Linked DNA regions of Homo sapiens. The protein of the gene in region 1 interacts with the protein of each later gene in a biochemical or structural test. Each region holds a gene or a part of one and is shown on either strand. Other genes may lie near its edges.

Evidence for each region.
Region 2: the proteins of TPR (region 1) and NUP98 form a complex in vitro, tested with the Homo sapiens proteins (one study listed by BioGRID).

Annotation. Positions count from the first base shown.
Region 1 is NC_000001.11:186,333,670-186,337,492, reverse strand, and holds part of TPR (nucleoprotein TPR), read left to right. Parts: intron 1-336; coding exon 337-480; intron 481-798; coding exon 799-997; intron 998-1,949; coding exon 1,950-2,155; intron 2,156-2,363; coding exon 2,364-2,425; intron 2,426-2,959; coding exon 2,960-3,168; intron 3,169-3,823.
Region 2 is NC_000011.10:3,787,450-3,791,272, reverse strand, and holds part of NUP98 (nuclear pore complex protein Nup98-Nup96 isoform 1 precursor), read left to right. Parts: intron 1-3,823. UniProt on the Homo sapiens protein: Plays a role in the nuclear pore complex (NPC) assembly and/or maintenance. NUP98 and NUP96 are involved in the bidirectional transport across the NPC. May anchor NUP153 and TPR to the NPC.

The DNA.
Region 1 (3,823 bases):
ATGTAAGCGACGTTTTTCCAAAGAAATAATATTATATGCTTATATTCTTTTGTATACTTTTTTCACTTGATTCATTATCATGAAAATACAGTTAAGTGTTGAAAATTCAACTATAATGCATCATTTTGATTAGCTGTTTAGTATTCAGTTATGTGGAAAACCATAACTAGTTCCCCATTTTTGGAGATTACAGTTGTTTCATAGAAAATTCTGTTTTGAATACCTTCAGGGATAAAATTTCTTTGCAAAGCTGTGATTATTTTCTTAGACAAACTTGCAGAAATGGAATTACTGAATATAAATATGTGAGTGTATTATTACTGTTTGTTGTCTTAGGTTATGGAGACATCGGCTCAGTCCTCTGGAGACCATCAGGAGCAGCATGTTTCAGTCCAGGAAATGCAGGAACTCAAAGAAACGCTCAACCAAGCTGAAACAAAATCAAAATCACTTGAAAGTCAAGTAGAGAATCTGCAGAAGGTATGAGTGTGAGAACAGTCTGTTCCTAATTCTTTCCTGTTATACACCTAAAGAAATATGTGTTAACTACTGACACTTTGTCTTACCATGTGGGAATGGATACATTTTATTCTTTTTACTTTGAATGGCTCATGTATGTAAGTAGTACCCAATCATCTTCAAGTGTGCATTTAGTTGGTCTGACCACCATTTTTATACTTATACTTCCATTTAATCTTTTAAAAAGCAAATTAATAAGTTATACTTTAAGTTGCTACCACATACAGTTTATATTGAAATGATTGAATTCCATGGTGAATACTTTGTTTTCCTTTAAAGACATTATCTGAAAAAGAGACAGAAGCAAGAAATCTCCAGGAACAGACTGTGCAACTTCAGTCTGAACTTTCACGACTTCGTCAGGATCTTCAAGATAGAACCACACAGGAGGAGCAGCTCCGACAACAGATAACTGAAAAGGAAGAAAAAACCAGAAAGGCTATTGTAGCAGCAAAGTCAAAAATTGCACACTTAGCTGGTAAATATCTGTTTAAAGTTTGAACTTGGTAGTGAAAGTTGATTATGTGTTGCAGGCCTAAAACTAAATGGAATAGAAATAAAAGGTATCTACTTATGAAGGGTGTTTGTGTGTGTATGTGTGCTTTAAATATTAGGAATAATTAGTTGGACACAAAGAGCAATCCTAATTTTCAAGTGATGAGGATATCCTTGATATGATGAAATTTTTCTCAATTGTTGGCTGGCAGTAGATAATGGAATACTGCTATCCTTCTGCTTTCATGGATAACAATTCTATCTTGTGACAGAGATCCTTTGAGCCCAGACCGTGCTGTCTAGAAACCTTATGTAGACTGCATAAAGATCTTTACCAGCCCAGGGATTTTTTTGTGCCTCGTTTGGTGGAGGACCCCTCTAGCTTTTCAGGGAGAGTATCATGTCAAATTTATGAAGAACCTAGTTCTTCAAGGCTCAGGGCTTTATTCAGCCTTGCCTATCAGTCTGCTGAGTAGTTAAATAAAATGTCAAATCAGTTGGATTTTGTTACAGGCATTTTTTTAAAATGATCTCTAAGACAGTGTCCTAACAACTTACTTGATTTTAAAAGTTCTTGAATTATTTTTAAACAGTGCTGTAGATTATATGAAATAAAAATTTTGCAATTCATAGTAATGAATTGCATGATACATTGAAATATAAACGGGCTTCTGTTAACTAGGATCTTTAGCTTTTTGAGATTTTAGTTAGGAAAAAGTAAATTTTTATGTTGGAGTAAGTATATTTTATATTCTAGTAATAAGTTAAAGCATGAATGTACTTAGAACTTTGCTCATTGAGATGTATGATGTATCATAACTAATGTAGATGTTATAGTAGTAGAATCTGATGTGACCATGTGCCAATTAAGTGCATAAATGCTGTTTTAAATGTTTGATTATAATATTAATATAATCGCCTGGTTACTTCTTTAGGTGTAAAAGATCAGCTAACTAAAGAAAATGAGGAGCTTAAACAAAGGAATGGAGCCTTAGATCAGCAGAAAGATGAATTGGATGTTCGCATTACTGCGCTAAAGTCCCAATATGAAGGTCGAATTAGTCGCTTGGAAAGAGAACTCAGGGAGCATCAAGAGAGACACCTTGAGCAGAGAGATGAGCCTCAAGAACCTTCTAATAAGGTGATTAGCTAATTCTGCTTAAGTAACAAATTGTTTTTCTTTGTACATTTTACTTGAAAGTGCTTGGTGATATAGGAGCCTTTGTCAGTGAATTTTGGCTAAAATTCAATATATGCGGAGAGAATTAACAATAATGACAATTTTTTTGTGGCATTTTTAGTGGACTCTTGTGGGCTAGGAACAACAATCAAGAGCTTTCTCTTTATAGGTCCCTGAACAGCAGAGACAGATCACATTGAAAACAACTCCAGCTTCTGGTGAAAGAGGAATGTGAGTTTTAGTTATTTCATAGTCTGTTATTTTTCTTTTAAAGCTCAGGGAATATCTAGTGATCTTTCTGTTTAGGAAAAAGAAATCTGTGTATTCTATTGTAAAAACATACACTAAAGAGTTGTTTTCTCTGCAGAACTGTATCATGTATTTGCCAGCTTGTTTTCACCATACTTTCAGTCCTATCAGATGAAGCTTTGTGACAGAGAAAACGTCTCTCATCTTTTAGTTTACAGTTGGTTTCTAAGTTAGGCTGCTACTGATTTTCCCCGTGATGTTACATGATGACAGATAGAAAATGCTGGGCTGAGACTTGGGTTCAGCAATTCAACAGCTAGATACATTTTACATTGTCAGGATGCACCACTCTGGAGCATTCCCTGTGTAGTTTTTAATGCTTAAATTCAAAACAGCTTTAATAAGGCTCTGAAATATTTAGTGAACAAAAAAATGGAGACCTATACTCACTGTGTTTTTAAAAGTATTTGCATAATAATTTGTTATTAATTATTCTTCCATTTTCTCCTCTATAAGTGCCAGCACATCAGACCCACCAACAGCCAATATCAAGCCAACTCCTGTTGTGTCTACTCCAAGTAAAGTGACAGCTGCAGCTATGGCTGGAAATAAGTCAACACCCAGGGCTAGTATCCGCCCAATGGTTACACCTGCAACTGTTACAAATCCCACTACTACCCCAACAGCTACAGTGATGCCCACTACACAAGTGGAATCACAGGAAGGTTAGTAAAATAATACAGATCTGATGAGACTGCTTATTTAGATTTATTATGAGAAGATGACAGTAATTTCAAAGACAAATGAAGCATCCACTACAGCTGAAGTCACGTCATTGTAAAAATGGGTGTTTAATATTTGAAGGACATACTTCTAGGACCAAAATTTTCACTTGTAATGACAAAGAATATATGAAATCCACTTTGGAAAATCATACTGAATTACTGGCTCAATCCAACATTGCTTTCTCACTGAAACTGACCATTTCATTGCTTTCTTCAATTTTTTCCCATGACACTCTTGTTATTCATTACAGCAATTACAACTTTGTATTTTATTCTGTGGTATACATGCTTTTTACTCCACTACATTGAGCTCCTCAAGGGCAAAAATCTCAGCTTCTTATTGTTTAATCCCTTTACCTAACTCCACAGTAGGTGTTCAGTAAAACTTTGCTACCTGCATATTTCCTTAGATTCTTATCTTGACAAATGTTAGAATTCAGTAAATTATTCAAGTATTTCTGTGCTGTGAAAGTAGAGAATGTTTTATTTCAGCTACATCCAATAAACTAAATATATTACTAATCAAATTTACTATCTGTTATATCAATTAAAAACTAAATGATGCTTAATGAAAAATTCTAATTTTACTTTGAGC
Region 2 (3,823 bases), on another chromosome or scaffold:
GTGTGAGCCACCATGCCCAGCCAGTACCAAATCTTAATAACCATAGTTTGTCAATCATTCTTTGAAATTAAAATGGTGGGCGGGGCGCAGTGGCTCACGCCTGTAATCCCAGCACTTTGGGAGGCTGAGGGGGGCGGATCACAAGGTCAGGAGATCGAGACCATCCTGGCTAACACGGTGAAAACCCGTCTCTACTAAAAATACAAAAAATTAGCTGGGCGTGGTGGCGGGCGCCTGTAATCCCAGTTACTCGGAAGGCTGACGCAGGAGAATGTCGTGAACCTGGGAGGCAGAGCTTGCAGTCAGCCGAGATTGCGTCACTTCACTCCAGCCTGGGCAACAGAGCCAGACTCTGTCTCAAAAAAAAAAAAAAATTAAAATGGTGTTCCATGAGAAAAACAACTACATTTAGCTTTCAAAAGTAATTACAGGTGGTTTGCCCCTTGATATCCTTTGTATTTCAGTAAGCAGAAGTTTTTGAGTATTTCCCAATACTGAATTAAAAAGAATTGTGCTGTAGTGTTGAGAAATAATACAACTAATAATTTTTGCTGCTTCATTAAGGACCCTTTTAAGTGAAAGTGGAATTTTTTATATTGTAAATGGGTGACAGTGAAGAATTCAGTGAGTGTTAGTTCAGCACCATTTGGGGTTGTTGCTTTGATTCATGCTGAGTTCCCAGCATTTTTGCACACCATTGATTTTGCACATCAGCACAGAGGTCAGAACAGTAAAGAAAAAGGGCAAAGTGTCTTAGTTTTATTGTGAAAATGGTTTTGATTTCATTGAACCCCTGGAAGAAGTGTTGGGGACTTTTAGGGGTCTTTGGGTCACACTTTGAGAACCACTAATCTAGAACAATATTTCACATTGGTTCATAGAGCCCTAAGCTGCTTCATAGGGCAGAGCTGGTGGGGTTCTACTGTACCTACTCCCTCTTCACTTCAGCCAGAGCAGCTTCTGCTTATGTCTGTTTTATATGTCGGGTTTCATGGCTAAAAAATATTTGAAAATCATTAGTCAAGGGGAAAAGAATTGAGCACCTGAATTAGGGCTGGTCTGTTCGTGAAGGGAACAGTTCATCCTCAGTAAATGTTACAGTCACTCATCACTTCACATCTTTAATTTTACTTCGTTTGACACAGAGCTTACTAGTATTTGCACACTCAACCTTCTTGATAGGTAAATGGGGCTGTGTGCCGTGGCTCACGCCTGTAATGCTAGCACTTTGGGAGGCTGAGGTGGGCGGATCACGAGGTCGGAAGATCGAGACCATCCTGGCCAACTTGGTGAAACCCCATGTCTACTAAAATACAAAAAATTAACCCGGTATAGTGGTGGGTGCCTGTAGTCCCATCTTCTCGAGAGGCTGAGGCAGGGAAATCGCTTGAACCCAGGAGGCAGAGGTTGCAGTGAGCTGAGATCATGCCACTGCACTGCACTCCAGCCTGGCAACAGAGCAAGACTGTCTCAAAAAAATAAATAAATAAAAAATAAGTAAATGGGCCTGGCACAGGGGCTCACCTATAATCCCTGCACTTTAGGAGGCCAAAGCAGGAAGATGGCTTGAGTCCAGGAGTTAGAGACCAGCCTGGGCAACATAGTGGCACATGCCTGTGGTCTCAGCTTTTTGGGAGGCTAAAGTGGGAGGATCAGTTGAACCCAGGAGGTCCAGGCTGCAGTGAGCCATGATCATGCCACTGCATTCCAGCCTGGGCAACAGAGTGAGACCTTGTCTCAAAACAAAAACCAAAAAAAAAAAAAAAAAAAAGAAATAGGTAAATGAATTTGTAAATTAAAAAGATGGATAGTTGGGAATAAAGACAGAGATGTGAGATAGATGGAAGAGGTTGAATGATCATAGTAATCTCAATATATTGTGTTTGTGCAGGGATGGGATTTGTTTTTGTTTGCAGTGGTGCTTTATGCTTGTGCTGAGTGATCAGTGGATGACACTTAAGCATTGAGAAATAAGAAATTATGGCATTCTAGCTAGCCATTGAACCAAAGTTTAGAGTGAGGGGACATTTATTATGCTTTTTAAATTATAAATACCTGTAAAATACCTGTTGAAAAATAAACAAAATGCTGCTTTTGAGGAGCTCTAGTTTGAGGCAGCTTTGTCCTCCTACCAGTCTTTTGGTGTAGGCTGTACAATCCCTATTGTTCAGATGTAGAAATTGAGGTCTGAGAGATTGAATATTATGACTTACAGTAGCAAGTGGCAGAGGAATTTTTTATTTTTTTAACTTTTTATTTTGAATTAACTTTAGATTTTAAGAGTCAATGATGGTAACTGACAGGTTTTTTTTTGGTTGTTTTTTTGAGATGGAGTTTCACTGTTGTTATCCAGGCTGGAGTGCAGTGGCACGATCTCGGCTCACTGCAATCTCTGCCTCCTGGGTTCAAGCGATTCTCCTGCCTCAGCCTCCCGAATAGCTGGGATGACAGGCATGCGTCACGACAACTGGCTAATTATGTATTTTTTAGTAGAGACGGGGTTTCTCCTTGCTTCTCAGGCTGGTCTTGAACTCCCGACCTCAGGTGATCCGCCCACTTTGGGCCTCCCAAAATGGTGCGATTACATGCGTGAGCCACCGTGCCCAGCCTTATACAGTGATTCTTAATAGTTAGGTATATATCCTTTCACTTTTAGAAATTTATTTATTTATTTATTTTTGGAGACAGAATTTCACTCTTGTCACCCAGGCTGTAGTGCAGTGGCGCAATCTGGGCTCACAGCAACCTCCACCTCCCAGGTTCAAGCAGTTCTCCTGCCTCAGCCTCCTGAGTAGCTGGGATTACAGGCATGTAGGCTAATTTTTGTATTAGTAGAGACAGGGGGTTTCACCATGTAGGCCAGGCTGGGCTCGAACTCCTGAGCTCAGGTGATCCACCAGCCTTGGCCTCCCAAAGTGTTGGGATTGCAGGTGTGAGCCACCGCGCCTAGCCGAGTGACAGTTTTAAATACAGATGTCTCACACCAAAGCTAATATACTCTTCACTCTAAAATGATTAGGGTTATGTTAAGGGGATGAAAAAAATGCTGCTCAGTGCTATTAGGAAGGAGCTTATGTAAGATGCTATGGACTATTTAAAATTAATTTACACCCAGTGAGCAAAGTCAAGACATTTTTTTTACCCAGAGCAGCAGACAGGTAAAACACTCAGGTGGCAGGTATAATAACAAATATATTGCATAACTAAAAGCAGCTGAGAGACACTAGTTTACGTAATCGGGGTTGGAAAGGAAGAGGGGAAGTAAAGTGTTTTATTTTTTTTGAGATGGACTCTGGCTCCGTCGCCAGGCTGGAGTGCAGTGGCCCGATCTCGGCTCACTGCAACCTCCGCCTCCTGGATTCAAGTGATTCTCCTGCCTCAGCCTCCCAAGTAGCTGGGACTAGAGGCACACACCACCATGCCCAGCTAATTTTTGTATTTTCAGTAGAGACGGGGTTTCACCATGTTGGCCAGGATGGTCTCGATCTCTTGACCTCGTGATCTGCCCGCCTCTGCTTCCCGGAGTGCTGGGATTACAGACATGAGCCACCGTGCCCGGCCTTTAAAGTGTTTTTATACTAATAAAGAGTTTAAGGGTGTGCGGCAGTCTTGTGAAAGCAGGTGAGGCTTGAGCAACAATTTTTAGGAAGAAAAGGAGATACGATTTTTAGAGAGGGTATGATGTTCTTTTTTTTTGTTTGAGACAGCGTCTTGCTCTGTTACCCAGGCTGGAATGATCTTGGCTCACTGCAACCTCTGCCTTCCGGGTTCGAGCGACTCTCCTGCCTCAGTCTCTCGAGTAGCTGGGATTACAGGCATGCGC